Regions from separate parts of the Homo sapiens genome. Here all the other regions are linked to region 1. Evidence: fine-mapped expression QTL. A gene starts in region 1. Each other region holds a variant in brackets. All regions are shown on one strand. Distances are from middle to middle.

Region 1 (8,044 bases):
TGTAGCTTGAGAGGGGCAGACCAGGGAAGCAGAGTTGTCCATTTTTTTTTTTTTTTTTTTTTGAGACCTAGTCTCGCTCTGTCGCCCAGGCTGGAGTACAGTGGTGCAATCTCGCCTCACTGCAACCTCCACCTCCCGGGTTCAAGCGATTCTCCTGCCTCAGCCTCCTGAGTAGCTGGGATTACAGGCACGCGCCACCACGCCCAGCTAATTTTTGTATTTTTAGTAGAGACAGGGTTTCACCATGTTGGTCAGGCTGGTCTTAAACTCGCGACCTCATGACCCACCCACCTCAAACTCCCAAAGTGCTGGGATTACAGGTGTGAGCCACCACGCCCAGTCAAGCAAAGTTGTTCTTAGGCCCAGAGCCCATTCCTTCCAGACTGGGTCGTTAGAGCTCAGGTGACTAAACTTATAAACACAGGCATAGCAACCCCTTGCATTTCTATGGTTACTTCTCTTTAATATAATTTTCTTTTTTTTTTCTTTTTTTTTTTTCTGAGTCTCGCTCTGTTGCCCAGGCTGGAGTGCAGCGGTGCAATCTTGGCTAACTGCAACCTCCGCCTCCCGAGTTCAAGCAATTCTCTTGCCTCAGCCTTCCGGGTAGCTGGGACTACAGGTGCACGCCACCTTGTCTGGCAAATTTTTTGTATTTTAGTAGAGACGGGGTTTCACCGTGTTGCCCAGGCTGGTCTCGAACTCCTGAGCTCAGGCAATCTGCCCGCCTCGGTCTCCCAAAATACTAGGATTACAGGCATGAGCCACCACGCCCAGCCTTTAATATAATTTTCATATGCTCTCTTGTGAGAATCTTGGTGAGACAGAAAGGTCACAGCCCATCAAGGCAATGTCCAGCCAGAGGATTCCCCCTTTCTTCCCCACAAGACAGTGGTGGAATCAGGGAGCCCACTGAGAAGTTGCTCATCCTACATCATGGGGCTTGCTAGTAGCTGGGCCAGGATTTAAACTCTCATTGGCCTGATTCTGATACTCTCCCCACTCTATCAAGTTCCCTCACTTCTCTCTCTGGGCCATTTCCCATCTGTAAAGTGAGTTGAACAAGAAGATCTTCAAGCCTTACCTGCTGCTCTATGTCCTTGGGAGAGTCATGAAAACAGTCCCGATTTTTGAGGCAGGTGATTTGAGTTTAAATCCGTTTGGTCAAATCAGTCACTCACTGTCCCTGAGCCTCAATTTTTTCATCTGCAAGTAAGATCTTGACATATTCAGACTAATCAATAAATGTCAGACTTCCTCTCTTCTTCTAAGTTTGTGCAGGGTAGTGAGGTCAGCAAGGGAATCATGGAAGACTGGTGCTCAAAACTCCATGACAAGCTCAGTTTTTCCATCTTAAAGTAGGAGAGTCAGATTAGAGGAATCAAGACCTGCCTCTCATAGGTCTTTGAGCCAGAGATTGGAATGGAGGAGATAATGACTTCCCCAGCAAAGATCCCTGACCTCCCAGGAATCTCCTGTGTATCCCTCCTCCCCACCTCTCCCAATCTCCATTCTGAACATTCTCCCTGAAAGAGTTAAGCCTTCTGCAGGCTTCCCGTTCCTGGCCAGCGTTGCCAGTGGAGATTAGTGGGATCAGATTTATTTCTCTTAATAAACAGAAAAGAAGTTGGGCCAGGCAGGTGACAAGGAAACAGTTGCAATAATAGGAGGCTGGAGTAAAAGGGAACAGGACTTCCTCCAGTCATACCCAGGGCCACCTCCAGACCTGGAGAAACAACAGCCAGGGGCAAGGAGGTGTTACCCATGCACGTGGGCTCAAATCAGGCCGACATGCTGCCCAGAAAGCCCAGAGCCACCTGATACCAAACACAAGGCAAGAGGGAGGCCTGGCCACTGACCCAATGAACCCAAACCCAGGCTGTTGGAGCAGTGACCTACAGGCTCAGCTTTTCCAGCCCCCTGCCTTCCAGGCTGGTCTCCCAGAGGAAAAAGGTCCATTGCCCTGGAGTATACACTGCTAGTCCACTAGCCTTCTGCCTGCCAATCCTGACAGTCTGACCACAATACATCCTGCTGCAATGCCCTCTTGAATGAGACGGGGATGACTTCAGACTGAATCCCAGTGGGGCAGCCCTGGGACAGACTCCATGTCCTGTTAGGACTGCAGAGGCTTTGGAAACACCCCTCACCCAAATCCAGTCCTCCCTCAGGGTTTGGCCCAGTCACCCCAGCCCCAGCACCCTCACTTCTATGTGTGGCTGTGCCGCAGGGAAGCAGGGCCCTTATCCAAAAGGAAGATCAAGCCGGATACAATCACACATGAGGCTTTCCACCCTCTTCCTGACCCCTAAAGTGTTCCTTCTAACTCTCCCAGAAGAGGTGGTTAAAGGACACTGGGAGGGTAAACACAGGCAGAATGGGATGGGCCCGCACACCCAGCCATTTCCTCACCTCCAGCACTGCAGCAGCAGTCTAGGAAAGGTGGACTTCCCAGGACAGCAAGCCCCAAGGGAGCTCCACCCTCTTGCAAAGACTCAAGCCCTCCCCATCAAAAGGAAGACAGAAACTGGAAAATGAGGGAAGGCCCAAGAAAGGAACTGAAAATGACCCCAGCAGGGATGGGCCAGGTCGGCTTCCCCGCCTTTCAGGCTGCCCGTCCAGGCCAGAGGAGGAGCCCAGGGACTCAAATTCAGAAAGACTGAGAATTAGCTGTTGAATTTTAAGTACCCACCCCAGCCCAGGTACAGCCTCTCCACTGAGCTTGGGCCTCAGTTTCCCCCATCTGTAAGCACACTTCCGACACTGGCATGTTTCTCCAGGGCTGGAAGAAGGAGTGATAGGGAGGGGCGGGTTGGTTCACCTTGGTGAGCTCACTACCCCAGGAGGTGATGTTTGTGGCCTGGCCCAGGTGAGCGTTGAGGGAGGCCAGGTGGGAAAAGCCAGCACTGTTAAGAAGCTAAGGCAGGGCACACTGTGCTCCATGTGAGGTCCTTTGTGGGGCTGGAAATCCAGATCCAGCTGGAGCTGAAACTCTTTGTGAGTGCGGTTGACCTTCCAGACCCAGAGGGTCCCCACCAGAGACCCAAGGCCACCTGTCTCTCCCATTGGCCACAGGCCAGCGTTAAGTCTCTGACCCCCTGACTCAGCAGAGGGCAGAACCTCGGTGAGCCTGGGGGAGGGGGAATCGCCTCACCGCCCTGGAGTCGGGCTACCAGCACTTCCTGCTCTGCCAGGGGATCCCTGCCCCAGCCGGGGGTCCCCTCCCCTCACAGCGGGGCAGGACTGGGTCTGGAAACTGCGGAAGGCAGCGCAGGGTGGAAGTGTTCGGACTCAGCCCTGGCCTCTTCGCTTTCCAGCACCAGCTCCTGGGGGTCACCCCCCTCCAACACGCCGCGCGCGGACCCCCGGCAGAGCCCCCTCGGCCGCACCCTCGACGCCCCCCCGCGCTCAGCCCAGGTGCCGACCGCCTTACCTCGGCCTTTGCCCTTGGCCCTCTTGGCCTTGTCCTCCGCCTTCTTGGCCCGGGGGGCGGCCGGTTCGGCGCCCTCGGCCCCCGCCGCCTTCTTCTTGCGCCGCTTGCCCCGCAGCCAGCTGAAGGCGCGGCGGAGGCCGGACGCGCCGGAGCGGGACTTCTTCCTGCGCGGGGGGCCGCCCGGGTTCCCCGGCTCCTCGGCCGCAGGTGCGGCGGGGGGCGCGCGGGCCGCCATGGCAGGCGGGGGCGGAGCGGGCGGCGGGTCAGGCCCCCTGCGGCGCGGTGCCCATGCCGGGGGCGGCCGCCGGGGACGCGCGCCCGGAGAAAAGTTTGGGCGGCGGAGGCCGAGCGGGCGCGGAGAGCGGACGGCGGGAGCGGCGCGGGAGGGGCCGGCCGAGCGGCGGGCGGGGCGCAGGCCGGCGGGGAGGGAAGGAGCGGGGCGGGAGCGGCCGCAGGGCGGGAGCGCCGCTGCCTGCGGCCCCTCCCCGCCTCCCCCGGTCCCGGCGGAGGGCGAGGTCCAGTCCCGAGAGGAGGGGGTCCCGGGAGCCCGGGGTCGTGCCCCCCGCTGGGGCCCGAGAGGGCGGGTCGTGGGGCCGCCCGGGAGGGGGCGGCACTGAGGTTCCGTCCCGCAGGGGGCACCGCGGGAGATCTGTTCGGAAGAGGGTGGTATGGGGTGGGGACGGAAAGGGGAAGGGCGCAGGAAAGGAGGAGCGAGAGGCTGGGGTTGGACCCCAGGAGACTTGGTATCCCAAGTTTGGGCTGGGAATAGACAGGGGATTCTGGAATATTTTTTCCTGGAATAAGGGAATTTGGAGAATTCCTTCCAAGCCCCGACAGTGTTGGGGCGCTTGCGCCAGGAATAGAGGCTTCAGACACGTCCAAGACCTGTGACCCGCAGTGGGCATTTCCCTCCCATCTGCTGACTGGGGTCGCCTCCTCGCTCTTTACCACACCTTCCAGGCTCCAACCATCTTCGGTGTGCAGCGGGGGCCCAGGTCCACTGTGTTCCTGCCTCACCCTTTGGTGGCAAGATGAGGATAGCCCTTCCTCCGTTTACCCTTGGACTAGGATTTGAGGCCCCAGGGCACTCCTGCCTGGACCAGGAGTTCCCACTGAGATGCTCAACACTAATTAGGGTTGAACTCTGGGCAGGTGAGAGGTGTGACTGGGAGGCTGGTAGGAAAGGAAACATTAAGAATCCTGAAATTGCTGTACTCATTGCCTACAGGCCTCTGGGTCTATTACAGCTGACCAAGCCCTTTTATATCATCTGATCCCACGACAACGGAAATGGAGGCCAGAAGGGGACAGAGGTGGTCAGCGGGAGAGGAGCCAAGATGGTCATCTGGGTTTTGTCTCAGGCTGGTCCAAGGCTTCAAACCCTAAGGACTAGAAATTGCGCTGGGGACCAGCTGTGGGTTCAGCACCCTTGAACCTCCTCCGTCAGTCCCCAGAAGGGCCTTGTGATGTCCATACCAGTGGGGTGGCCAGAATCACCCAATCTGACTCTGGTCACACGGCTTTCTCTTGGTCCTGGTCTCCACGAGGGCAGGGGCCCATTTGTCTGGGCCACCCAGCCCAGTCAGCCCCGGCGCACTGTAGATAGCACTCACCATAACATTGCAGGATTACTAGAGTGCAGTGGGATCTCCCTAACCTGCCTTAGCCCCCTGCATGTCCCCAGGGGCTCAGCTGTGGTGAACCTGGGACATCATTGACACTCTCCCACCTGGGGGCCCTGGGGCAGACCACCCAGTGTCCATGCTGGGCCTCAGTTTCTTGTCTAACCACCATTCATTCAGATCCAGCCCACAATCCCAGAGCACCCATTCTGGATCAGGAACCAGCCCTGTACTCTGGGTGCTCTTGGCCCAGCCTAGCACTCCTAAGAACCCAGCCTCTTCCTCTGTTAGTTGGTGAGGAAAGGGAATGTAGAGAATGCAGTTTTCAAGAGAAAAGTGTTACAGGTGCCAGGCATGGTGGCTCAGGCCTGTATTCCCAGCACTTTGGGAGGCCCAGGCAAATGGATCACCTGAGGTCAGGAGTTTAAGACCAGCCAGACCAACATGGTGAAACCCGGTCTCTACTAAATACAAAAACTTAGCTGGGTGTGGTGGTGCATGCCTGTAGTCCCAGCTACTTGGGAGACTAAGGCAGGCGAATTGCTTGAACCCGGTAGGCGGAGGTTGCAGTGAGCCAAAATTGCACCATTGCACTCCAGCCTGGGTGACAGAGCGAGACTCTGTCTCAAAAAAAAAAAAAAAAAAAAAAAAAAAAAACTTATTAAGAATTTCAAGGCCTGCCACAGTGGCTCATGTCTGTAATCCCAACACTTTGGAAGGCCAAGGTGGGAGGATTGCTTGAGCCTAGGAGTTCGAGACCAGCCTTGGGCAACATGGTAAGAGCTCATCTCTCCAAAAAAAAAATTGTTTTTCATTAGCCAGGTGTGGTGACAAGTGCCTGTGGTCCTAGCTACTCACTCGGGAGGCTGAGGTGGGAGGATCCCTTGAGCCCAGGAGGTCAAGGCTATAGTGAGCCATGTTCGCGCCACTGAACTGCAGCCTGCGAAACAGAGTGAAATCTTGTCTTTTTGTTGTTGTTGTTGTTTGTTTGTTTGTTTGTTTGAGACTGAGTCTTGCTCTGTCGCCCAGGCTGGAGTGCAGTGGCACAATCTCGGTTCACTGTAACCTCCACCTCCCGGGTTCAAGCGATTCTCCTGCCTCAGCCTCCTGAGTAGCTGGGACTACAGGCGCCCGCCACCACGCCTGGCTAATTTTTGTATTTTTAGTAGAGACGGGGTTTCGCCATATTGGTCAGGCTGGTCTCGAACTCCTGACCTCAGGTGACCCACGCGCCTCGGCCTCCCAAAGTGCTGGGATTACAGGCGTGAGCCACTGTGCCTGGCCTGACTTTGTCTTTTAAAAAAAGAATTTCAAGAGGCAATAGCAGGCCGGGCAAGGTGACTCACGCCTGTAGTCCTGGCACTTTGGGAAGCCGAGGCAGGTGGATCACAAGGTCAGGAGTTTGAGACCAGCCTGGCCAACATAGTGAAACCCCGTCTCTACTAAAAATACAAAAATTAGCCAGGCAAGGTGGCAAGCGCCTGTAATCCCAGATACTCGAGAGGCTGAGGCAGGAGAATCACTTGAACCCAGGAGGCGGAGTTTGCAGTGAGCCAAGATCACGCCATTGCACTCCAGCCCCGGTGACAGTGTGAGACTCCATCTCAAAAAAAAAAAAAAAAAAAATTAGCCAGGCTTGCTGGCAGGCGCCTATAATCCCAGCTACTCAGGAAGCTGCGGCAGGAGAATCACTTGAACCCGGGAGGTGGAGGTTGCAGTGAGCCGAGATCATGCCATTGCACTCCAGCCTGGGCGACGAGTAAAACTCCGTCTCAATAAAATAAATAAAAATACAAAAAAACTAGCAAGGCATGGTGGTGCTTGTCTGTGGTCCCAGCTGCTCGGGAGGCTGAGGCAGGAGAAACGCTTGAACCCAGAAGGCAGAGGTTATAGTGAGCCGAGATGGTGCCACTGCACTCCAGGCTGGAAAATAAGAACAAAACTCCGTCTCAAAAATAAAAATGCCGGGCACGGTGGCTCACGTCTGTAATTCCAGTACTTTGGGAGGCCAAAGAGGGCGGATCATGAGGTCAGGAGATCGAGACCACCCTGGCCAACATGGTAAAACCCCGTCTCAACTAAAAATACAAAAATTAGGCCAGGTGCAGTGGCTCACACCTGTAATCCCCGCACTTTGGGAGGCTGAGGCAGGCGGATCACCTGAGGTCGGGAGCTCGAGACCAGCCTGACCAACATGGAGAAACCCTGTCTCTACTAAAAATACAAAAATTAGCCAGACATAGTGGCGCATGCCTGTAGTCCCAGCTACTCTGGAGGCTGAGCAGGAGAATCGCTTGAACCTGGGAGGTAGAGGTTGCAGTGAGCCTAGATCGTGCCATTGCCCTCCAGCCTGGGCAACAAGAGCGAAACTCCATCCCAAAAAAAAAAAAAAATACAAAAATTAGCCGGGCATAGTGGCGGGTGCCTGTAATCCCATCTACCTGGGAGGCTGAGGCAGAGAATTGCTTGAACCCGGGAGGTGGAGGTTGCAGTGAGCCGAGACTGTGCCACTGCACTCCAGCCTGGGCGACAGAGCAAGATTCTGTCTCAAAAAAAAAGAGGCAACAGCAAAACATTCAACCAAGCACAGAGCCTTTCTGAGCATGGGCTATGCATAACTACACAGTTTGCATGCCTCTGAAGATAGCCCTGCCAGTGTCTCATATAATTCCTCAGGGAAATTCCCCTCAAACTAGAATTTCCAGGAATCAACCCACAGATTGGATCCTCTGATTTGCAGGTAGGGAGAGGAAGAAGGGAAATGAGGAGAGTTCAGGGTTATATTCCCTTCACTGCTCCTGACTCCAGCACCCAGAGACTCTCACTTCTCATCCCCAGCCCGGACCACCTTCAGACCAGCAGGCCCAGCTCTCCCTCTTGCCCCCTGGCCTAAAGGACAGACATGCTTCTGAGCCACCCAGGGAGGGCTAGCCTAGGAAGAGCTAGCCTGTGTCTCAGCTGTAGCTGGATCCGGCTCCCTGGAATAATGATT
Region 2 (8,044 bases), 100 kb before region 1:
CTTCATCAGTAGATGTGCACTACAACAAACATTACAAGTTGTTCATTAGGAAAAAGGAAAATAATATCACATCGAAACTTGGATCTATACAAAATAATCAAAAGCACTGGAAATGTAAGTATGTGAGTGCATATAAAAGGCTATTTTTCCTATTTAGATGATGTCTTTAAAAGATAATTTACTGTTACGGCCAGGCACGGTGGCTCATGCCTGTAATCCCAGCACTTTGGGAGGCCAAGGTGGGCGGATCACCTGAGGTTGGGAGTTCGAGACCAGCCTGACCAACATGGAGAAACCCCGTCTCTACTAAAAATACAAAATTAGCCAGGTGTGGTAGCACATGCCTGTAATCCTAGCTACTAGGGAGGCTGAGGCAGGAGAATCGCTTGAACCTGGAGGCGGAGGTTGCGGTGAGCTGAGATCGCACCACTGCACTACAGCCTGGGCGACAAGAGTGAAACTCCGTCTCAAAAAAAAAAAAAAGAAAGATAATTTACTGTTTAAAGTAAAAATAACATGCCTGTAATCCCAACACTTTGAAGGATGAGGTGGGAGGCTTGCTTGAGGCCAGGAGGTCAAGACTACAGTGAGCTATAATCATGTTACTGCACTCTAGCCTAGGCAACAGAGTGAGATCCCATCTCCATAATAATAATAATAAATTTAATAAGATAATAAAAATACAACAAAGAGGTATAGGCAGTAAGTATGGAGATAAAATGGAATACTAAAAAATACTACAAAAATTAAATGAGTCAGGGAAAGATGGAAGTGGAAACAAAAAACAAATAGAAAACAAGTAACACGATGGCAGATTTAAATCCAGCCATATGGGATTGTACATTAAATGTAAATGGATTAATGCTCCAATTAAAGACTGAGATTGTGAGACTGGAAAAAAAAAAAAAAAGCAAGACCCAGCTACCAATTATATGCTCTCTATAAGACATTTACTTTAAACATAAAAGTAAATTAAGGAGGGCAGGCGTGGTGGCTCATGCCTGTAATCCCAGCACTTTGGGAGGCCGAGGCAGGCAGATCATGAGGTCAGGAGTTCAAGACCAGCCTGGCCAACACAGTGAAACCCCATCTCTACTAAAAAACTACAAAATAAGCCGGGTGTAGTGGCATGCACCTGTAGTCCCAGCTACTCAGGAGGCTGAGGCAGGAGAATTGCTTGAACCCAGGAGGTGGGGGTTGCAGTAAGCCAAGACCACACTATTGCACTCCAGCCTGGGTGATAGAGTGAGACTCCATCTCAAAAAAAAATAAAAAAATAAATTAATTAAGGCAAGGCCCAGTGGCTCACACCTGTAATCCTAGCACTTTGGGAGGCCGAGGTGGATAGATCACTTGAGCCCAGGAGTTTGAGACCAGCGTGGGCAACATGGCAAAACCCCATCTCTACAAAAAATACAAAAAATTAGCCAGGCTTGGCGGCACACACCTGTAGTCCCAGCTACTTGGGAGGCTGAGGTAGGAAGATCACGAGCCCGGGAGGTTGATGCTACAGTGAACCATGATTGTACCACTGCACTCAGGCTGGGTGACAGAGCAAGGCTTTATCTTAAAAAAAAAAAAAAAGAAAATGAAAACATATCAAAATGTGTGGGATGCAGCTAGCAGTGCCTAAAGGGGAGCCTATGGCTTAAAATGCTTAGAGAAAATAGAAAGTTCTCAAGATCAATGATCTGATCTTCCACATTAAAAAGCTAGAAAACAAGGCCAGGCATGGTGACTCATGCCTGTAATTGTGGCACTTTGGGAGGCCAAGAGTTCGAGACTAGCCTGGGTAACAGTGAGATACCATCTCTATTTAACTTTTTTTTTTTGAGACAGGGTCTCACTCCGTCACCTAGGCTGGAGTGCCGTGACACGACATTGGTTCACTCAGCCTCCTGGGTTCAAGGGTTCCTCCCACCTCAGCCTCCCAAGTAGCTGGGACTACAAGTATGTGCCACCACAACACTCGGCTACTGTCTCTATTTTTTAAAAAAGAAAGGCCAGGAGATCGAGACCATCCTGGCTAACACAGCTAACGTGGTGAAACCCCGTCTCTACTAAAAATACAAAAAATTAGCCGGGTGAGGTGGCGGGCGCCTGTAGTCCCAGCTACTCAGGAGGCTGACGCAGGAGAATGGCGTGAACCTGGGGAGCGGAGCCTGCAGTGAGCCAAGATCGCGCCACTGCACTCCAGCCTGGGCAACAGCGAGACTCCACCTCAAAAATAAATTAAATAAATAAATAAATAAATAATAAAAATACAAAAAAATTAGCCGGGCATGGTGGGGGGTGCCTGTAGTCCCAGCTACTCGGGAGGCTGAGGCAGGAGAATGGCGTGAACCCGGGAGGCACAGCTTGCAGTGAGCCGAGATCACGCCACTGCACTCCAGCCTGGGCAACAGAGCGAGAGTCCATCTCAAAAAAAGATATATATATATAGATATATAGAGATATATATCTCTCTATAGATCTATACAGAGATATATATCTCTATCTATAGATATCTATATATATCTCTATCTCGGAATAGAAATCAGAAAACAGGAAGGGCATGGTGGCTCATGCTCATAATCCCATTACTTTGGGAGGCCAAAGCTGGAGACCATCTCTACAAAAAAATTTAAAAATTAGCTAGGCATAGTGGCACGTGCCTGTAGCTACTCTGGAGGCCGAGGTAAGAGTATTACTTGAGCTAAGGAGGTAGAGGCTGCAGTAAGCTGTGATGGCCCCACTGCACTCTAGCCTGGGGGACAGAACCAGACCCCATCTCATAAAAATTAGTAACAAAACAGGGTTTGCTCTGTAACCTAGGCTAGGCACAAGTGATCCTCCCACATTGGCCTCCCAAAGCACTGGGATTACAGGCATGAGCCACCGTGCCCAGTTCCAAATGTTTTTCTAAAATCAGTAACAGGTTCGGGCACAATGGCTCACACCTGTAACCCCAACACTTTGGGAGGCAGAGGCAGGCAGATACTTGAGGCCAGAAATTCGAGACCAGCCTGGCCAATATAGCAAAACCCCACCTCTGCTAAAAATACAAAAAATTGGCTGGGCACAGTGGCTCACACCTGTAATCCCAGCAATTGCGGAGGCCGAAGTGGGCGGATCACCTAAGGTCAGGAGTTCAAGACCAGCCTGGCCAACATGGTGAAACCCTGTCTCTACTAAAAATACAAAAAAATTAGCCAGGCATGGTGGCAGGCGCCTGTAGTCCCAGCTACTCGGGAGGCTGAGGCAGGAGAATCACTTGAACCTGGAAGGCGGAGACTGCAGTGAGCTGAGATCGAGCCACTGCACTCCAGTTTGGGTGACACAGCGAGACTCCAT[C/T]TCAAAAAAAGAAAAAAAAAGTCAACAAGGGGATGGGAAAAGATCTCAGCCGGGCATGGTGGCTCACGCCTGTAATCCCACCACTTTGGGAGGCCAAGACGGGCAGATCATGAGGTCAGGAGATCGAGACCATCCTGGCTAACATGGTGAAACCCCGTCTTTACTAAAAATACAAAAAATTAGGCCATGTGCGGTGGCTCACACCTGTAATCCCAGCACTTTGAGAGGCCAAGGTGGTCGGATCACTTGAGGTCGGGAGTTCGAGACCAGCCTGACCAATATGGAGAAACCCTGTCTCTACTAAAAGTACAAAATTAGCCAGATACAGTGGCACATGCCTGTAATCCCAGCTATTCAGGAGGCTGAAGGAGAATCGCTTGAACATGGAAGGCGGAGGTTTTCGTGAGCCGAGATTGTGCCATCGCACTCCAGCCTGGCAAGAAGAGTGAAACTTCATCTCAAAAAAAAAAAAATTAGCCGGGTGTGGTGGCTCATGCCTGTAGTCCCAGCTACTCAGGAGGCTGAGGTTGCAGTGAGCTGAGATCACGCCACTGCACTCCAGTCTGGGCAACAGAGCGAGATTCTTGTCTCAACAACAACAACAACAACAACAACAAACAAAAAGAAAAGATCTCATTTGTACTTAACTGGAGGTTCTAGGCAGCACCAGAAAAGAAAATAAAAGGCATCCAAGTCAGAAAGAAACAAGTAAAAATTTCTTTATTTGCTGACAATAAGATAACCTACAGGGAAAACCTGATGAAATCTATTAAAAAGTTACTAAAACTAATAAAAGAATTTAGGAAGGTTATAGAATGTAAGACCAAGACACAAAAATCAATTACATTTCTATATAATAGCAATGAACAGATACTGAAATTTTAAAAACTAAATCATTTTACAAAAGCATCACAATATGAAACACTCCGGGATAAATTGGATAAAAGATGTGCAAGACTGTACAAAAGCTACAAAACATTTATGAAGGAAATTAGAGAAGACTTTAATCAAAACACTCAATATTAAAATGTTAATTCTCAGTCAGGCGCGGGGGCTCACACCCGTAATCTCAGCACTTTGGGAGGCTGAGGAGGGCTGATCACTTGAAGTCAAGAGCTCGAGAACAGCCTGGCCAACTTGGTGAAACCCTGTCTGTATTAAAAATAAAAAAATTAAGCTGAGTGTAGTGGCAGGCATTTGTAATCCCAGCTACTTGGGAGACTGAGGCAGGAGAATTGCTTGAATCTCGGAGGCAGAGGTTGCAGTGAGCTGAGATCGCACCACCGCACGACAGCCTAGGCAACAGAGTGAGACTCCATCTCAAAAAAATAAAATAAAATGTTAATTCTCTCTCAGTTTTATTTATTTATATAGACTCAATACAATCCCAATGGAAATCCCACCAAGCCTTAAGAAATTGATACGCTAATTCTAAAATTTATATGGAAATGCAAAGAATCTACAAAAGCCAACACAACTGAAAAATAAGAACACTAGTGGAACACATTAGTCTTTTTTTTCCTGGAAACCTGATTTTTCTAGAGACAAATGATTTTTGACAAAGGTACAAAGGCAATTCAATGCAGAATGGACAGTCTTTTCAATAAATGGTAAAGAAGCAATTGAATATCCATGTGCCAAGAAAATAAGCCTTACATTCCCACGTGTGTGTGTGTGTGTGTGTGTGTGTGTGTGTGTATATATATATATATACATATATATATATATATGTTTTTTTTTTTTTTTTTTTTTTTGAGACAGTCTTACACTCTGTCACCCAGGCTGGAGTGCAGTGGTGCATCAATGCAACCTCCCTCTTCTGGGCTTAAGCAATCCTCCTGCCTTAGCCTTCTGAGTAGCAAGGACTACAGGTGTATGTCACCATGCCCGGCTAACCTTTTAATTTTTTTTTGGTAGAGGCAAGGTTTCACCACATTGCCCAGGCTGGTCTCAAACTCTTGGGCTCAAGCAATCTTCCCACCTGAGCCTCCCAAAGTGCTGGGATTACAGGCTTTAATCCATATCTTGCACTACATACAGAATAAATTTTAAAAGGATCATAGATCTAAATGTAATCCCTAAAGCTATAAAACCTCTAGAAAAAAACATAGGAGAAAATTTTTGTGGCCTTTTCTTTTAAGCAAAGATTTCTTAGATACCACATGAAAGCATAATCCGTAATTTTTTTTTTTTTTTTTTTTTTTTGAGACAGAGTTTTGCTCTTGTTGCCCAGGCTGGAGTGCAATGGTGCTATCTCGGCCCACAGCAATCTTTACTTTCCGGGTTCAAGCAATTCTCCTGCCTCAGCCTCCCGAGTAGCTAGGATTACAGGCATGCGCCACTACGCCCAGCTAATTTTGTATTTTTAGTAGAGATGGGCTTTCTCCATGTTGGTCAGGCTGGTCTCAAACTCCCGACCTCAGGTGATCTGCCTGCCTTGGCCTCCCAAAGTGCCGGGATTACAGGTGTGAGCCACTGCTTCCCACCCATAAAATTTTTAAAAACCTGATTAAACTTACTTCATCTACTATAACCAGTGACTACCAAGAAAAATAAATAAATAAATAAAAATAAACAAACTTACTTCATCAAAACTAAGAATTATGTTCTTTAGAAGACACTTATGGGAATGAAAAGACAAGGCATATACTGGGAGAAAATATTTCCAAATTACTTATCTGGCAAAGAAACTTGCATTTGGAACATGTATTTAAAGAACTCTCGAAACTCAGTAATAAGAAAATAATCCAATTTTTTTTATTTTTTTTTTTTTTGAGATGGAATCTTGCTCTGTCGCCCAGGCTGAAGTGCAGTGGCACAATCTCGGTTCACTGCAAGCTCCGTCTCCCGGGTTCACGCCATTCTCCTGCCTCAGCCTCCTGAGTAGCTGGGACTACAGGCACCCGCCACCATGCCCAGCTACTTTTTTTGTATTTTTAGTAGAGACGGGGTTTCACCGTGTTAGCCAGGACGGCCTCAATCTCCTGATCTCGTGATCCGCCCACCTCGGCCTCCCAAAGTGCTGGGATTACAGGCTTGAGCCACCGCGCCTGGCCGAAAATAATCCAATTTTTTAAATGAGCAAAAAATACTTCACCAAAGAAGATATACAGGTGGCAAATAAGCACATGAAAAGATGCTCAACATTATTACTCATTAGGAAAATGCAAATGAAAACTACAATGAGATATCACTACACATATATTAGAAAGTCTAAAATTATAAAAACTGACCACTTTACACCCATTAGGATGACTCCCATTGAAAAATAGAAAATAGGTCGGGCGTGGTGGCTCACACCTGTAATCCCAGCACTTTGGGAGGCCGAGGCAGGCGGATCACCTGAGGTCAGGAGTTCGAAACCAGCCTGGCCAACATGGCAAAACCCTGTCTCTACTAAAAATACAAAAATTAGCCAGGCGTGGTGGCGGGTGCCTGTAATCCCAGCTACTTGGGAGACTGAGGCAGGGAGAATTGCTTGAACCCAGGAGGGGGAGGTTGTAGCGAGCCAAGATCATGCCATTGCATTCCAGCTTGGGCAACAGAGCAAGACTCTGCCTCAAAATAAAATAAACAAACAAACAGAAAATAGGGGGCCAGGTGCGGTGGCATGGTAAAACACGGTCTCTACCAAAAATACAAAAAATTAGGCCGAGTGCGGTGGCTCAAGCCTGTAATCCCAGTGCTTTGGGAGGCCAAGGTGGGTGGATCACTTGAGGTCAGGAGTTCAAGCCCAGCCTGGCCAACATGGTAAAACCCCACCTCTACTAAAAATACAAAAATTAGCCGGATATGGTGGATGCACACCTGTTATCCCAGCTACTCAGGAGGCTGAGACAGGAGAATCGCTTGAACCTGGGAGGCAGAGGTTGCAGTGAGCTGAGATTGCACCGCTGCACTCCAGCCTGAGCAACAGAGCAAGACTCCATCTCAAAAAAACAAAACAAAACAAAAAATTAGTCAGGTGTGGTGGTGAGCCTGTAGTCCCAGCTACTCGGGAGGCTCAGGTGGGAGGATTGCTTGAGCCTGGGAGGCAGAAGTTGCAGTGAATCAAGATCACACCACTGTACTCCAACCTCAGTGACAGAGACCCTGTCTCAAAAAACAAATAAGTAAAAGAAAATAGTCTGGGTGCAGTGGTACACACCTATAATCCCAGTTACTCAAGAGGCTGGGGTGGGAGGATAGTTTGAGCCCAGGAGTTCACAACCAGCCTGAGCAACACAGTGAGACCCCGTCTCTAAAAATAAAAAGAAATTAGCCAGGCATGGTGGTGTGCACCTGTAGTTTAACCTTATTCAGGAGACTGATGCCAGGAGTTTGAGGCTGTACTGCACTACGGTTGTGCCACTGCACTCCAGCCTGGGTGACAGAGCTAGACTCCATGTCAAAAATAAAAATAAAAATAGAATTAGCATATGATCTAGCAATTCCTCTTCTCTTCTTGGTATGTAAGAATTGCAAGCAGGGTCTCAAAAAGATACGTGTAGATGCATATGCATAACGGCATTATTCACAAAGCTAAAAGGTGGAAGCAAACCAAGTGTCCATTGATATATAAATGGATAATCAAAATGTGGTATCCATATGCTGTATTATTAAGTCTTAAAAAGGAAGGAGATTCTGACACATGCAACAACAAACATGAATCTTGAGGACATTGTGCTAAGTGAAATAAGCCAGTCACGAAAAGACAAATACCACTTTGTCT
Region 3 (8,044 bases), 61 kb after region 1:
ATGCAGGAACAGCTGGAGGAAATGGAAGAACGCCAGAGGCAGTTAAGAAATGGGGTGCAACTCCAGCAACAGAAGAACAAAGAGATGGAACAGCTAAGGCTCAGTCTTGCTGAAGAGCTCTCTACTTATAAGTCAGTTTCTGCTGCTATACAAATCTCATCTAATACTGGCTGAGGGGATGGTGGGAGGGCTTAGGGAAAATTTTACCTTAGAATCAAAAACAAAAAGAGGATTTGGGAAATGATTTTCAAATTGTGCTTATCCAAAAACACATGGAAAATGGCTCTCTCTTTTTAAAGGGCTATGCTACTACCCAAGAGCCTGGAACAGGCTGATGCTCCCACTTCTCAGGCAGGTGGAATGGAGACACAGTCTCAAGGTGATCTTTGTGAAGAGAAGAGTGGTGTTTGCATTGTTACTGCTTTCCTAACAATACTAATTAATGCCTTAAAAACAGGCCGGACGGGGTGGCTCACGCCTGTAATCCTAGCACTTTGGGAGGCTGAGGAGGGTGGATCACCTGGAGTCAGGAGTTCAAGACCAGCCTGGCCAACATGGCAAAACTCCATCTCCACTAAAAATACAAAAATTAGCCGGGCATAGTGGCAGGCACTTATAATCCCAGCTACTCAGGAGGCCAAGGCAGGAGAATCGCTTGAACCAGGAGGCAGAGGTTGCAGTGAGTCAAGATCACAATACAGCACTCCAGCTTGTACAACAGAGTGAGACTGCCTCAAAACAAAACAAAAACCCAAAAAACAAAAACAACAAAAAACCCTTGTGTGCCTAATGACAAGGGGATAACCCAAACCTCCAAAACGCCTGAGTCAGGCATTCAGAGTTCATTTGGAATGTTTGTTTCTAGTAGGACTCAAAATATGCCCTGATTATCACCATGAATTCTGTGGCATCTAGGCTTTGGGCATCTTGTTTCCTCATCCTACCCTACCCACCTGCTATTCTCAGTTTTCCTTATAATAGCAGAGAAAGCAGTTGTGCTATCAAAAATAATAAACATATCTATCCATTAAGTTCCTTATATAATATTCAAAGGCTGTGGTTTTGGGTGGAAGCAGAGATGTTCATGTTACACAGACTTACTCTTTTTTTTTTTTTTTTTTTTTGAGACGGAGTCTTGCTCTGTTGCCAGGCTGGAGTGCAGTGGCGTGACCTCTGCCTCCCGGGTTCAAGCGATTCCCCTGCCTCAGCCTCCCAAGTAGCTGGGATTATAGGCACGCACCACCACGCCTGGCTAATTTTTTTGTATTTTAGTAGAGACGGGGTTTCACCATGTTGGCTAAGATGGTCTCATCTCCTGACCTTGTGATCCACTTGCCTCGGCCTCCCAGAGTGCTGGGATTTCAGGTGTGAGCCACCATGCTTGGCCTAAACAGACTTAACTTTTAGACACTGACAAAACTGAAGGCATCTTTCTGACCAATCACCTACTCAGGATCCCTCCCCCAATGTTTTACCAGTATATTCTGATAAAAGTTCTAGAGTCCGTGAAAGAAACTAAGGATAAAAGAAAGTCCGTGTCAAGTTGTACATTATACAGATGCCTATAAATTTTATTCATTTCCTAAGCTTACATCAAATTCACAACTTTCTTTTTTTTTTGAGACAGTCTCGCTCTGCCACCCAGGCTGGAGTGCAGTGGCACGGTCTCAGTTCACTGCAACCTCCACCTCCTGGGTTCAAGTGATTTTCCTGCCTCAGCCTCCTGAGTAGCTGGGACTACAGGAGCATGCCACCACGGCCAGCTAGTTTTTGTATTTTTAGTAGAAACGGGGTTTCACCATCTTGGCCAGGCTGGTCTTGAACTCCTGACCTTGTGATCCACGTGCCTCAGCCTCTCAAAGTGCTGGGATTACAGGCGTGAACCACCGCGCCTGGCCCACAAGTAACTATTGTTGCTTTTTCTAATTTTCTAGGATTTTATTTTTTTAAATTTCTTTTTAGTAGAGATGGGGGGTCGGGTCTTGCTATTTTGCCCAGGCTGGAGTAGTGGCACGATCTTGGCTCACTGCAACTCTGCCTCCTGGGTTCAAACAATACTCCTGCCTCAGCCTGCTAAGTAGCTGGGATTACAGGCATAAGCCATCACACCCAGCCTTGAGGATTTTCTTATACTGTGTTTGAATCCACATGACTGATAATATGCTTAATGTTTGAGAAATTATAACCTTGCAATTGAGGTTAATGATCTACTAACTACCTTTGTGTTGATCAGATTGTGTACAATCTGGAAAAGACAACGACTAATCCAAAGAAATGAAACTACAGAATTTCAGGCATTGTAATTATACCTGTAAGAAGTTAACCTAGCAGAGAAAACGTTTAACTATCCCTCCCATCACCATCACCATTCATTCTATTTGACAAACAGGAGGCATCCAAATATTTGCTAGGGGAAAGTCATCCCTGATCATCCATAAATCACACTGTAACAATCTCTTCTCAACAAAGCCTGCAGTAACTAAACCTCAGAAGTTCACTGTTATAAACTTTTTCTTTCAACTTTACAGGGGCTGTTTAGAAATATATGGCCAAATCTGTAACCCGGAAACAGCAAAAAACTTCTTAGCAAAGGATCACTAAGTACCCTTTGGATGTACTCTTCCAACCAGACAAGAGTGCCAGAAACTTGGCAAGCAATTCATCCTGTGGAAGTTGCAAATACTGGCTGACCTGCTTAAAAAGATTCTAGAGTTGGCCGGAGGCAGAACATGTCAACTCTTTGCTGGATTCTATTTCATCTGCTGTTGATACTGATCTCAATGCACCAAGGAAAGGAAAGATGAGCCTCCTGTCTTCCAGCAACAACCCTCACATATGCACTGAGTGAAGGATGAATGTATGGACACATCTGGGAGTATTTTAAAGAATGTATCTTGCCTTGTGTTGACCCAAACCAAAAACATTTTTGAGGGGCACATGTGGGGTCAAAAAGATAGCCAATTTCCATTACATGGGTTTACAATTTCCATTCTTTTGTGCCACGAGTGTTAGAATTTAAATGAATACTTTTACAAAGTCTACTTTTTGTTCAAGGATATGCTGACCCATATAGTTTACTCTTAAAATTGTGTCAAGGTATTTCTCACTATACTCTAAAACAACTAGACTTGAAAAGAAACCATTTGAGATTTGAATCTAATGGTTAACGCTATTCAGATTTTCCCAAAGATCTTACCTCATGAAAGTAGTTCTGGGTCAGAATGATCTACTCAGTTAAAAAACAACAACAACAAAAAACTAAGCGATTGGGAAAAAACAGGAATTTTATCTGGTTATTGCATCTGGTGATAGAGGCCTTCAAAGCCTATTATTTCTAACCTAAGTAAAGGCCCCAGTGAAAAACATACTGGGGAAATAAAACCTCTGAGAAAAGGTTCAAGCACCTTTTCCAAATTTAAATCTTGCCTTAAATTCTCTCTACCACACTGCCTTTGACACTCTTGGAAGTCCATGTAGTTCTCTACAGATAGACTTCAAAGAAACGTTACCTTATCAAAGACTAATCTGTGCCACCTCTGATTCAGTGTTTTATGTCTTTCACTTTCCCTGGGAAGGAGTAAAGTTCTTTTCTACAG[C/T]TCTGGGACTATTACATTTAATTCTGCTCTTGATAGTCAAAGACCATGGACAACAACTGTCATCTGAAGGACTCTTCTAGAAGCCAGAGACTGGTGTTTGATGGATGTTTTATACTAAATAAAACCCATCAGCATGGGGTTATGTAGAAAAGCAATTTATTCCATTTTAAGCACTTACACAGTTAGTCATGGAGAGTAACAGGCCTGCTGGTGAAACAGGTCACCCAAAATGGAGATGGCATCAAACTAGTGGTCAAGGACTAACTCCTAAAAAAAAAAAGCAACTCTTATCAAGGATTAATTTAATTTTTAAAACAAATACAAGTTATTGATTCACTCTTCTCAACTTGACAGTCTACCTGTGGTATAACTGTCAGGTAAAAACATACATCTTTACAACTTGGTGGTCCCAAGTTAAAAAAAAAAAAAAAAAAACCAACAACAAAAAAAAAAACACCATTTCACAGACAGGAAATAAACAACATGAAAACAGCTCAAGAAATACACTAACGAGCAAAAATATATGAATATATGGGGAAAGAGGAACGTGTTGTTTTGACTTAACTGAAGAAACCAAGAGGAAACTGGTCTACGTATGAAAATGTGCATCCTGGAAAGTCAGGTGTCAAGATTTTCGAGTAGGAATCTATATGACTTGAATCTCCCCCTATTTCCTGAATAAAAGTGACATCTTTCAGTATTTATACTTCATGGCTCAGACACCTACCTCATTTGGCTCTATTCCTTACTCACTCTAGCCTTTACTTAAATGAGTCTGAAAAACTTGGGGATATAGCATAAGAAGAAAAATAATCACACATAATATTCCCCTTTCTGTAGCTACTTTAGACCTGGGTTACTAGAAAATTCCTGAAGAAAATTTCAACGTTAAGTCTGTGGCTTTGTTGAATCAAGCCCCCCTATTAATATTTAGAAAACACCCACGGTTTGGGCTAATAGCATTATCGGTGGTACCTATTATATAGAGGGATAGCTGAATAAAGTCTGTCTCAAAACCAGTGTTAAATCACTCTCAGGGTTGAGAAGAAAAAAGGGGAGTCTAAAATCACAACAAGTAAAGACATATCTAGGACCCTTGTCCTTCTGGATCCACGCTTCCTTCAGGGTCTTCATCATTATAAATGTTCTCTGCCTGCCCAAAAACAAGAAAAAGAATTTAAACATGAAGACTTCTTCTAAAACTCAAGGTTTCAACAACAGATTAGGCCAGGAAGCCAGAGAGTAAATACTTTATAGCTTTTGGGCCACACAATCTGTGTTACAACTATTCAACTCTTGGATGAAAGTATCCGGAGACAACCTATAATGGGTAATGAAATATTAATTAGCATGATCATGTTCCAATAAAAATAAGCAGCTGATCCCCAGACGCCTGATTAGGACATTCCCACAAAACTGCAGTGTGGATACTATTTGTCTTGATAGCCAACATTCTTGAGTTCTTTAACCAGGCATTATTATTTTTCTTTCCTTTTGAGATGGAGCCTTGCTCTGTCTCCCAGGCTGGAGTGCAGTGGCACCATCTCGGCTCACTGCAACCTATGCCTCCCAGGTTCAAGCAATTCTCCTGCCTCAGCCTCCAGAGTAGCTAGGATTACAGGCACATGCCACTACGCCTGGCTAATTTTTGTATTTTTAATAGAGATGGGGTTTCACCATGTTGGCCAGGCTGGTCTCGAACTCCTGATCTCAGGTGATCTGCCCACCTCGGCCTCTCAAAGTGCTAGGATTATAGGAGTAAGCCATTGTGCCCAGCCTAACCAGACATTATTAATAATAGCCAAAAAGTAAAAACAACCCAAATATCCATCAACTACTAAAATGGATACACGGTATATCCAATCCATATGATGGAATATTATTTGGCATAAAAAAGCCAGTCAGGCCAGGTGTGGTGGCTCATACCTGTAATCCCAGCACTTGGGAGGCTGAGGCAGACAGATCACTTGAGGTCATGAGTTTGAGACTAGCCTGACCAACAAGGCGAAACTGCATCTCTACTACAAATACAAAAATCAGCCATGTGTGGGGGTGCACCCCTGTGGTCCCAGCTACTTGGGAGGCTGAGGCATAAGAATTGATTGAACCTGGGAGGTGGTGGTTGTAGTGAGCCAAGATTGCACCACTGCACTCCAGCCTGGGTGGCAAAGCAAGACTGTGTGCCAAAAAAAAAAAAAAAAAAAAAAAAAAAAAAAAAAAAAAAAGCTGTCACATACTTTAGGATTTTATTTATATAAGGTGTCCAGGCCAGGTGTGGTGGCACACGCCTGTAATCCCAGCATTTTGGGAGGCCAAGGCAGGCGTATCACCTGAGGTCAGGAGTTCGAGACCAGCCTGGCCAACATGGTGAAACGCTGTCTCTACTAAAAATATAAAAATTAGCCAGGCGTGGTGACAGGCGCCTGTAATCCCAGCTATTTGGGAGGCTAAGGCAGGAGAATCGCTTGAACCCAGGAGGCGGAGGTTGCAGTGAGCCAAGATCACACCACTGCACTCCAGCCTGGGGGGCAAGACTTCGTCTAAAAAAAACAGGGGTCCAAAACAGGCAAATCCATAGCTTGGTGGCTGCCTAGGGCTGGGGGACTATGAGAAAAATAGGAAATGATGGCTAATGGGTACAGGGTTTCTTTTTCAGATGATGAAAATGTTCTCAAATTGACTGTGGTTGATGGTTGCACAACTGTAAATACACTGAAGACTGCTGAACTGCACACTTAAAACTTCCAAAACAATATGTTCCGAATCTCTATATATTGAAGAGAAAAACTGTTCTTGTATAGAATAAACTCTACTTCTACTGCTTGACAGAATACCTGTATCCAACGGCATAATCTTAAAATACAGGAACCACTTTCACAGGAGCAAAATTTACTGCTCTTAGCACCTACCATGCACATATCACTATGATAGGTACTGCAGAGGACAGGATAGTCTTACCTTCAAAGAGCTTGTGATCTGACCCCAGAGAAAAGAATACATACAATTGTGTGATGCTTTCTGACGTTACTTCTAACACCAAATGTGGGGTACCCTTTCTTAGGACACCAACTGGGTGTACAACTCAATCCTATTCTGACACTATCTGAAGTTAGCTTTGGAGAAGACTGTCCTTACTTCAGAAGCCAGTTGCAATTCCCTGGTCCCAGGCTACCTGCACACTTCTATCCCACTTGACTACAAATTTCAGGGTTCCCACTACTGCCTCCTCAGGTCTGATAATTTGATGGAATGACTCACAGAACCCAAGAAAGCTTTTTACTATTACTGTTTTTTGTTTGTTTTTTGTTTTGTTTTTTTTTTTAAATAAAGGATACAACTGAGGAACCACATGGAAGAGATGCATACGGCAAGGTGGGGAGGGGCTGCAGAGTTTCCATCAAGTCTCTGGGCATGCTACCCACCCAGTATGTCGAGTTGTTCACCAATCCAGAAGCACATCAAATTAGGAGTTTTTATAGAGTTCAATCTCTGGCCCTGCAACCCCAAGGTTGGCAAGTGGGCCGACAAGTTTTAACCCTCAAATCAAGTGATTGGCCTTTCTGACTAAACCAACTATGAGGCTATCTAGGGGCCCCACCAAAATCACCTCACAGTAGAACAAACTCAGGTGTGGTCCAAAGTGGATCACTAGGAACGACAAAGACACTCCTAGCACTCTGCAAACTCCGAGTGTTTTTGGAGAGCTCTGTGCCAAGAACTGGGACAAAGACCAAATATTTACTTACTCTATTACAATGCTAAAAACACCAAATAAAGTAACAACTTGGAATGGAGGTGATGGCCTTGCAGGGATCTAGTTTAACCTTGAATTCTTCAGTATTTTTTTTTTGAGACAGGGTCTCGCTCTGTCACCCAGGCTGGAGTGCAGTGGCGCCATCTTAGCTCACTGCAACCTCTGCCTCCTGGGATCACGCTAGCCTCCCACTTCAGCCTCCCAAGGAACTGGGACTACAGGTACGTGCCATCACGCCCAGCTATTAAGTTTCTGTATTAATATTGAAGGGATTTATTACAAAGAGAGTGAGGTGAATTTTCTGTTTTCAAGTTACACATCTTTTTTGTAAAAAAATTATAATACAGAAAGGTCTAAAGAAACCAAGAACTAGGTACCAAGCACATTTTAGCAAACAGCTTTTCTTTTTCTTTTTTTTTTTTTTTTGAGATGGAGTTTTGCTCTTGTTGCCCATGTTCGAGTGCAATGGTGCGATCTTGGCTCACCGCAACTCCTCCGCCTCCTGGGTTCAAACAAGTCTCCTGCCTCAGCCTCCCAAGTAGCTGGGATTACAGGCGCCCGTCACCATGCCTGGCTAATTTTTGTATTTATTTTTTAGTAGAGATGGGGTTTCACTATGTTGACCAGGCTGGTCTCAAACTACTGACCTCAGGTGATCTGCCCACCTCGGCCTCCCAAAGTGTTGGAATTACAG
Region 4 (8,044 bases), 34 kb after region 1:
AGACTTTGTTTCAAAAAAAGAAAAAAAGAAGTGGCCGGGCGCTGTGGCTCACGTCTGTAATCCCAGCACTTTGGGGGGCCAAGGTGGGCAGATCACGAGGTGAGGAGATCGAGACCATCCTGGCTAACATGGTGAAACCCCATCTCTACTAAAAATACAAAAAATTAGCTGGGCGTGGTGGTGGGCGCCTGTAGTCCCAGCTACTCGAGAGTCTGAGGCAGGAGAATGGCATGAACCTGAGAGGCGGAGCTTGCAGTGAGCTGAGATGGCACCACTGCACTCCAGCCTGGGTGACAGAGCAAGACTTGGTCTCAAAAAAAAAAAAAAAAAAAAAAAAGGAAGCAGAACCAGAGAGGTTAAGTAATTTGCCCGGAGACACAAAACAAGTCTGTGGCCATGCCTGGGCCCCTTGGGGCTAAGTCTGAGGATGGAAAGGCTGCCAGATTCCCACTAGACTATAAGTCTCTGAAAGTCAAGGTTAATGACAATGATGTGGATAACACATCATTTATTCGTGGAGGCAGTGTATTGAATCTTGGGTGCCACCATTTCCTCTCTGTGTGACTTTGGTCAACTAAGTTGCATAACCTCTCCAAGCCTCAGTTTTCTCATCAGTAAATGGGCTTTATTACAGGCCCCATGTTATAGGGCTGTTCTGAAGATTTATTGCATTAAAGCAGATAAAATGCCTTCTAGCCCAGGTGCAGTGGCTCCGGCCTGTAATCCCAGCACTTTGGGAGGCCCAAGCAGGCAGATCACCTGAGGTCAGGAGTCTGAGACCAGCCTGGCCAACACGGCGAAATCTCCTCTCTACTAAAAATACAAAAATTAGCCAGGCATGGTGGTGGGTGCCTGTAATCCCAGCTAATCAGGAGGCTGAGGCAGGAGAATTGCTTGAATCCGGGAGGTGGAGGTTGCAGAGAGCCAAAATTGCGCCACTGCACTCCAGCCTGGGTGACAGAGCGAGACTCTGTCTCAAAAAAAAAAAAAAAAGACTAGTTTAGCATCTGGCTTGCAGTAGGGGCTCAAGAATATAGCTAACATCATTTACTAATTTGGCCACTATTTGTTTTTTCTTTTCATTCTTTATTCTCTTCTATTTGTCTTATTCATTACTATACTCTTCATGAACACATCATTTGGCCACTATTTGTTGAAAACCTAGGGACAAGGGACACAGCCATGAAGTCATACAGATATAGGTCTTGCTTTAATGACTTACTGTCTTTGTGTTCTTAGGGTTTAACACATTGTCTGGCCTAACAAATGGTGAAGTGAATGAATGAGCGAGTGAAAACACATGCTGTAGTCAGCCAGCCCCTGGTTGCAGCTTCAGAGAGAGGAAGCAGGAGAAAGGGGAGTTTCAAAAATAATAGTTAATTATTTCTTGTTTTTGTTTTGTTTTGAGACAGAATTTTGCTCTTGTTTCCCAGGCTGGAGTGCAATGGCACGATCTCGGCTCACTGCAACCTCCGCCTCCTGGGTTCAAGCGATTCTCCTGCCTCAGCCTCCCGAGTAGGTGGGATTACAGGCATGCACCACCATGCCCAGCTAATTTTGTATTTTTAGTAGAGACGGGGTTTCTCCATGTTGGTCAGGCTGGTCTTGAACTCCCGACCTCAGGTGATCCACCCACCTCGGCCTCCCAAAGTGCTGGGATTACAGGAGTGAGCCACCGCGCCTGGCTGTGTTATCTAATTTTACAGAGAAGAAAACAATTTCCATGAAGTGGAGTGACTTTCCTAAGGTCACACAGCAAGTAAGCGCTCCAAAGCTTGGATTCATACCCTGGCTCTCTAGAAGCAGTAGGTCAAGGCTGGGTGCGGTGGCTCATGCCTGTAATCCCAGCACTTTGGAAGGTCAAGGCTGGAGGATCGTTTGAGTTCAAGAGTTCAAGACCAGCCTGGGCAACATGGTGAGATACCCCTCTATCTGGCTGTGATCTGTACAAAAAATAAAATATTTAGCCGGGTGGGGTGGCACACACCTGTGGTCCCACTGATCATACCACTGCACTCCAGCCTGGGCAAGAGCAAGACTCTGTCTGAAAACAAAAAACAGAAGTGGTGGGTCTGAGGGCCCTGCCAGGGCATCTCTGTACCACCCTCCTCCCACCTCTAGACGGGTTGCTGGAGCTCTTGGCACAAAGAAAGTGAGCAGAGGCCAGGCGTGGTGGCTCATGCCTGTAATCCCAGCACTTTGGGAGACCCAGGAGGGCGGATTGAAGGTCAAGAGTTCACGACCAGCCTGGCCAATATGGAGAAACCCCTTCTCTACTAAAAATACAAAAATTAGCCAGGTGTGGAGGCAGGTGGCTCAGGAGGCTGAGGCAGGAGAACCCAGGAGGCAGAGATTGCAGTGAGCCAAGATCATGCCATTGCACTCCAGCCTGGGGGACAAGAGCAAGAACGCCGTCTCAAAAAAAAAAAAAAAGTGAGCAGAATGGCCTCCACCTGCATCAGTAGTAATGGGGAATGTGCTACTCTCAGCTTGGAGAGCAGCTCCACTTCCAGTGGCTCATGTGTTGAGCCTCACATTTGATTGCATTTCACAACAACCCTGTGAAGAGGGTGTTAATTGCCCATTTTGCTGAGAGGGAGCTGAGGTTCAGGGAGGTTGGTTTCCCAGGGTCCTATAGGATCTGCTCTGGGGTCTGGTAGAGACAGCTGCCAAGGCCATGCCTCCCCTGCTGCCCTCTGGTGCCTCTCCACTTCCCAGCTCATCCATCCATTCCTCCCACACGCATGTCCACTCACTCACAGTCCCCTGCCTGCCCCATTCTACCAGCCACAGAAACTACAGTCCTAAGACAGAGGGACCCCTTGGGTGGGGACCCTGCCTGGAGTGGCACCCAGAAGTCTTCACTCGAGATGAAATTTGTTCACAACTTTTCTGATTCTGGTTTTTGGTGCGTTTTTTTTTTTTTTTTTTTTTTTTTTGAGACAGAGTTTTGCTCTTGTTGCCCAGGCTGGAGCACAGTGGCACAATCTTGGCTCACTGTAACCTCCACCTCCCAGGTTCGAGCAGTTCTCCTGCCTTAGCCTCCCAAGTAGCTGGGATTACTGGCATGAGCCACTACACCCAGCCAATTTTTGTATTTTTAGTAGAGACAGGGTTTCACCAGGTTGGCCATGCTGGTCTCGAACTCCTGGCCTCAGGTGATCCACCTGCCTCAGCCTTCCAAAGTGCTGGGATTACAGGCGTGAGCCACCACGCGTGGCTCTAGTTTTTGTATTTTTATTTTATTTATTTATTTATTTGTTTATTTATTTATTTTTTTTTTGAGACAGAGTCTCGCTCTGCTGCCCAGGCTGGAGTGCAGTGG[C/T]GCAATCTCAGCTCACTGCAAGCTCCGCCTCCCGGGTTCAGGCCATTCTCCTACCTCAGCCTCCCATGTAGCTGGGACTACAGGTGCCCGCCACCATGCCCAGCTAATTTTTGTATTTTTAGTGGAGACGGGGTTTCACCGTGTTAGCCAGGATGGTATTGATCTCCTGACCTCGTGATCTGCCCGCCTCGGCCTCCCAAAGTGCTGGGATTACAGGTGTGAGCCACCACGCCCGGCCTAGTTTTTGTATTTTTAGTAGAAACCGGGTTTCACCATGATGGCCAGGCTGGTCTTGAACTCCTGACCTCAGGTGATCCACCTGCCTTGGCCTCCCAAAGTGCTGGGATTACAGGCGTGAGCCACGGAGCCCAGCCGGTGGGGATTTATTTATGTATGTTTTTGGAGACAGGGTCTCACTTTGTTGCCCAGGCAGTAGGGCATCATGCAGTAGTGTGATCATTGCTTACCGTAGCCTTGAACTCCTGGACCCAAGCAATATTCCTGCCTCAGCCTCCCTCACACCTGGAATTAGAGGTGTGAGCCACCACACCCAGCTGTGGGGGGTATTTAGAAAGAAAGTCTCCCTAAGTTATCTGTCCAGGGCCCAGCTTTCTAAGGTTCAGTTTTTATCTTAGGGATCTCAGCAGGAAACAGCGGCACACTCAAACACTCAGTGTTTGCCAGAAGAGGATTTAATGAAGAGACCATTCACAGAGGTGTGGGCAGGAATGGCGGAGCACCTGGGACTCGCAATGGTGGAATGGAATCATTACCCCTGGGCCTGAAGGAGCAGGGGAGGGAGCCTTGTTAAGGAACCTGGCCAGAGCTGTACCCATGGGTACAAACCACCCAACAGGAGCCATGGCTTTTGGGGGAGGAATATAGTTAATGCCAAAGTCACAGGCAGGGAGGGGGCATAATAAATATCTTTATCTAGGCTGGGTGTGATGGCTCACACCTATAATCCCAGCACTTTGAGAGGCTGAAGCGGGTGGATCACCTGAGGTCAGGAGTTTGAGACCAGCCTGGCCAACATGGCAAAATCCTGTCTCTTTGTATTTTGTAAAAATACAAAAATTAGCTGGGTGTGGTAGCACATGCTTGTAGTCCCAGCTACTTGGGAGGCTGAGGCACGAGAATCACTTGAACCCAGGAGGTGGAGGTTGCAGTGAGCTGAGATCATGGCACTGCACTCCAGCCTGGGTGACAAAGCGAGACTCTGTCCCCCCAAAAATAAAAAATAAAATAAAAATAAATATCTTGATCTCACTCTCCTCCCTCTCTGATCTCCTGCCAGGGTCCCCAGTTTGGCCAAACCCCACCTGAAACCAGAAGGCAAGGGGGCCCAGGAGACGCTGGCCGCAGGAGTCAGCTCCTGGACACAAAGCTCTGAGAAGGAAGGTTAGGCTAAGAGTAGCCAGCCCAGGGGCCTCTCTCCTCCTCCTGGGTTTGGCTTTGTGGAGGGGCTGAGAGTTAAGAGTGGCTGCGCTTGTCCTTCAAAGCAGAGTCTGTGCCTGATTCCTGATTCCAGAACAGCTTTTCTCATCCTTCCAGGCCCAGGTACTTTGTTCACGAGGCCATCCCCAGTCCCGGAGTTAATTTCTCCCATCCATCCCTGGCTTCCCTGGTTCTCAATGTCTATCACATCACTCAGCCCAGTGATTTGGCATTATTTTCTGCATAGGTTTTTCTCCCCAGGAGACGGTTCTAGCTTCCTCTACACTGAAAGCTTCTTGCAGGCTTGGGCCAAATAAGGCTGTTTGCTCTGACACAGGGCCCAGCACAGCCCAAGTGCCAATGTTTGCCAAGTGAGCTGAATCTTATGGGCTCAAATACCTCACACTGCCTTGCTGTATGCAATCTGGGCACATGTGTGTCTGTCTCCCTGAGTAGACTGGGGCTCCTGAGAGGTGAGTGGCCCAGGCCTAGCACACAGCAGGCATCAAATATTGCCTAAATTAGCCTAAGTAAAACCATCCTCCTTCCCTTCATTCATTCAACAATTTTTTTGGAGCTTCCAGATAGCTGAACATATGGAGGTTCCTGGAGGATGGTGTGCCCAGGGAGGGGATGGAAGCTTCATGCCCCTTCCTCCATAACTCTGCCCTATTCATCTCTTCATCTGTATCCTTTTCAATATCCTTTATAATAAGCCACTAAAGCTAAATATGGCCATGTGACTGAGCTCTGGCAATAGGACACAATCAGAAGTGGTGTGAGGTGAGCGACCCCTCCTTTTTACTTTCATTGGATAGAATGAGGCATTAGAAGGGAGCTTGGACTGGTCTTGGATGGGTGTGGATTAGGGCCACAGTCTGGAGATGGTGGAAGACCAAGCTGTGATTCTGCATCTTTGGCAGATTGTATTTTCCCAAGACAGAGGCAATACTATATCCCATTCCATAAGCTCTTCTTATACTGTGACTTTGACACACCCTTCCCATTAAAAGGTGGCATCTATGTCCCCTCCCCATGAGCTGGAGGCCCGGGTTTTTGTGACTGCCTTTAGCAACAGAATAGGTCAGCAGTGACAGTGTGTAGCTTCCAAGGCTAGCTCAAAAAAAATGCCTTTCACTTCTGCCTTGTTCTTTTGGGACGTTTACTGTTGGGACTTAGCCACCATGCCATGAGGAAGCACAAGCAACCCGTGGAAAAGCCCATGTGGAGGAGAACCAAGACCCCCAGCCAAATACCCTGCTGAGCTCCCAGCTGACAGACCGCATCAACTTGCCAGCCACATGAGTGAGCTGTCCTGGACGCGAGTTCTGCAACCTCTGGGCAAGCCACCTCAGCTGATGCCACGTGAAGCAGAAATGAGCTGCCTCCACCAAGCCGTGCCCAAATCACAGATCTGTGGGTAAAATAAATGATTGTTATTATTATAAAAAACAAAAACAAACAATTTTTTTAAGGTCCTACTATGTGGTAGTCCCTGTGCTGGGCTCTGGAGACACAGCAGTAAACAAGACACATAAAGTCTCTGCCCTCATGGGGCTTCCATTCTAGTGGGGAAGCAGAGAAGAAAATAATTGAAAATGAATAGTATTGGCCGGGAGCGGTGGCTCATGCCTGCAATCCCAGCACTTTGGGAGGCCGAGATGGGCGAATCACGAGGTCAGGAAATCGAGACCATCCTGGCTAACACGGTGAAACCCCGTCTCTACTAAAAATACAAAAAAATTAGCTGGGCATGATTGCAGGCACCTGTAGTCCCAGCTACTCCGGAGGCTGAGGCAGGAGAATGGCCTGAACCCAGGAGGCGGAGCTTGCAGTGAGCTGAGATTGCACCACTGCACTCCAGCTTGGGCAACAGAGTGAGACTCCGTCTCAAAAAAAAAAGAAAGAAAATGAATAGTATTGTTGCAGATTGATAAGTGCTGCACAGAAAATAAACAGGGTGACAGGGATAAACAGTAAATGGGGTGAGGCATGGTGGCTCCTGCTTGTAATCCCAGCACTTTGGGAGGCTGAGTCTGGAGGATCCCTTGAGGCCAGGAGTTTGAGATCAGCCTTAACAACATAGTGAGACCCCATCTCTATTAAATAAAATTTTACAAAACCCAACAAAACAAAAAAGCCCATAACAAAAAAATAAATGGGTGGACATTATGGGCAGGGGGTGGGGAGGCATCAGAGAAGGCCTCTGTGAGATGTGATCTGAGACCTGAAGGAGAGTAAAAGGTGGGCTGTGAAGAGCTGGAAAGGGTTTTCTAGGCAGAGGGAGCAGCAGAAAAGGCCTGGCTGGGTGTGGTGGCTCACTCCTGTAATCCCAGCACTTTGGGAGGCTGAGGTAGGAGGACTGCTTGAGCCTAGGAGTTTGAGACCAGCCTAGGCAACACAGTGAGACCTCGTCTTTACAAAAAATACAAAAATTATCCAGGTGTGGTGGTGTGCATCTGTAGTTCCAGCTACTCGGGAGGCTGAGATGGGAGGATCACCTGAGCCCAGGAGGTTGAGGCTGCCGTGAACCATGATTGCACCACCGTACTCCTGCCTGGATGACAGAGTGAGACCCTGACTGCAAGAAACAACAGCAACAAAAAAAACAACAACAAAGGCTTGGAGGTGGGGAAGTTTCTGGGACCCTGGGGAATTCAGGGTTTCAGCCTAAAGAAGCGCTGAGCAGGAGGGTAGGAGCGGGTCAGAAATTCAGTCCTAGGGACAGCCTAAGGCCAGGTCCTGGGCTGGGGGTTGGAGGGGCAGAGCCAGCTCTTCTGAATGCCACCCTTGCCGCCTGTTGCTTGGTACCACAGCAAACAGAGCCTCTGGCAGGCCTGCCCTTGCTGCCTTAGCTCTCCTCTGGCGGGCAGCAGATGTCAAATGCCCAGCAGCTGAGGCTTCGCCAGCCTCCTCCCCTGGAATAGTTCGGGGGTAAGTCAGAAAATGACCAGCAGCCTCAAAACCTGGCTTTTTCTCGTGCGTACCTTACAAGGGTATATTTGGCTGCCCTGGGTGTTAAATCTTCCACCCCCTTGCATTAGACAGAGAAATATAAATATACAGCCACAGGCAGCACACTCAGACGCGAGGATGAATGAACATTTATCAACCCCCAGTCACGCACAAGCACACAGTCAGAGTCACAAGCGGGACCATATGCATGCCCCCCACACAGAGTCAAAACCGCCAGCCCCACAAAGACACTCCACCATGGCACAATCACCACACACATTCACCCTGAGATCACACAATCACACATCCACATGCTCACACACAGAC

Which allele goes with the higher level. Alleles are on the strand shown, and positions count from the first base shown. SD is a standard deviation of normalised expression in the study named. Not every link is listed here.
With allele C in place of T in region 2, the expression in fibroblasts of the gene that starts at base 3,790 in region 1 is lower (moderate effect, 0.53 SD a copy in GTEx).

What was found.
Region 2: its variant is fine-mapped to the expression of NHSL3 in fibroblasts (GTEx, PIP 0.90).
Region 3: its variant is fine-mapped to the expression of NHSL3 in whole blood (TOPMed, PIP above 0.99).
Region 4: its variant is fine-mapped to the expression of NHSL3 in whole blood (TOPMed, PIP above 0.99).

The regions. Positions count from the first base shown.
Region 1 is chr1:32,737,576-32,745,619 of GRCh38, reverse strand. NHSL3 (NHS like 3) reads right to left here and starts at 3,790. Exons shown (of 7, transcript NM_020888.3): 1 at 3,431-3,790. The coding sequence starts at 3,665.
Region 2 is chr1:32,839,224-32,847,267 of GRCh38, reverse strand. The region is part of intron 5 of S100PBP (S100P binding protein); the gene reads right to left. Among named protein-coding and RNA genes, the nearest start is that of S100PBP, 26 kb to the right of the region's middle. The variant C/T (reference allele first, on the strand shown) is at 3,334.
Region 3 is chr1:32,676,345-32,684,388 of GRCh38, reverse strand. It overlaps RBBP4 (RB binding protein 4, chromatin remodeling factor), which reads right to left. Exons shown (of 12, transcript NM_005610.3): 12 at 1-4,749. The coding sequence ends at 4,684. It overlaps SYNC (syncoilin, intermediate filament protein), which reads left to right. Exons shown (of 5, transcript NM_030786.3): 3 at 7-131; 4 at 300-379; 5 at 2,529-4,483. The coding sequence ends at 2,539. Among named protein-coding and RNA genes, the nearest start is that of SYNC, 22 kb to the left of the region's middle. The variant C/T (reference allele first, on the strand shown) is at 3,597.
Region 4 is chr1:32,703,763-32,711,806 of GRCh38, reverse strand. No RefSeq gene overlaps it. Among named protein-coding and RNA genes, the nearest start is that of SYNC, 5.0 kb to the right of the region's middle. RefSeq lists an enhancer at 8,038-8,044. The variant C/T (reference allele first, on the strand shown) is at 3,326.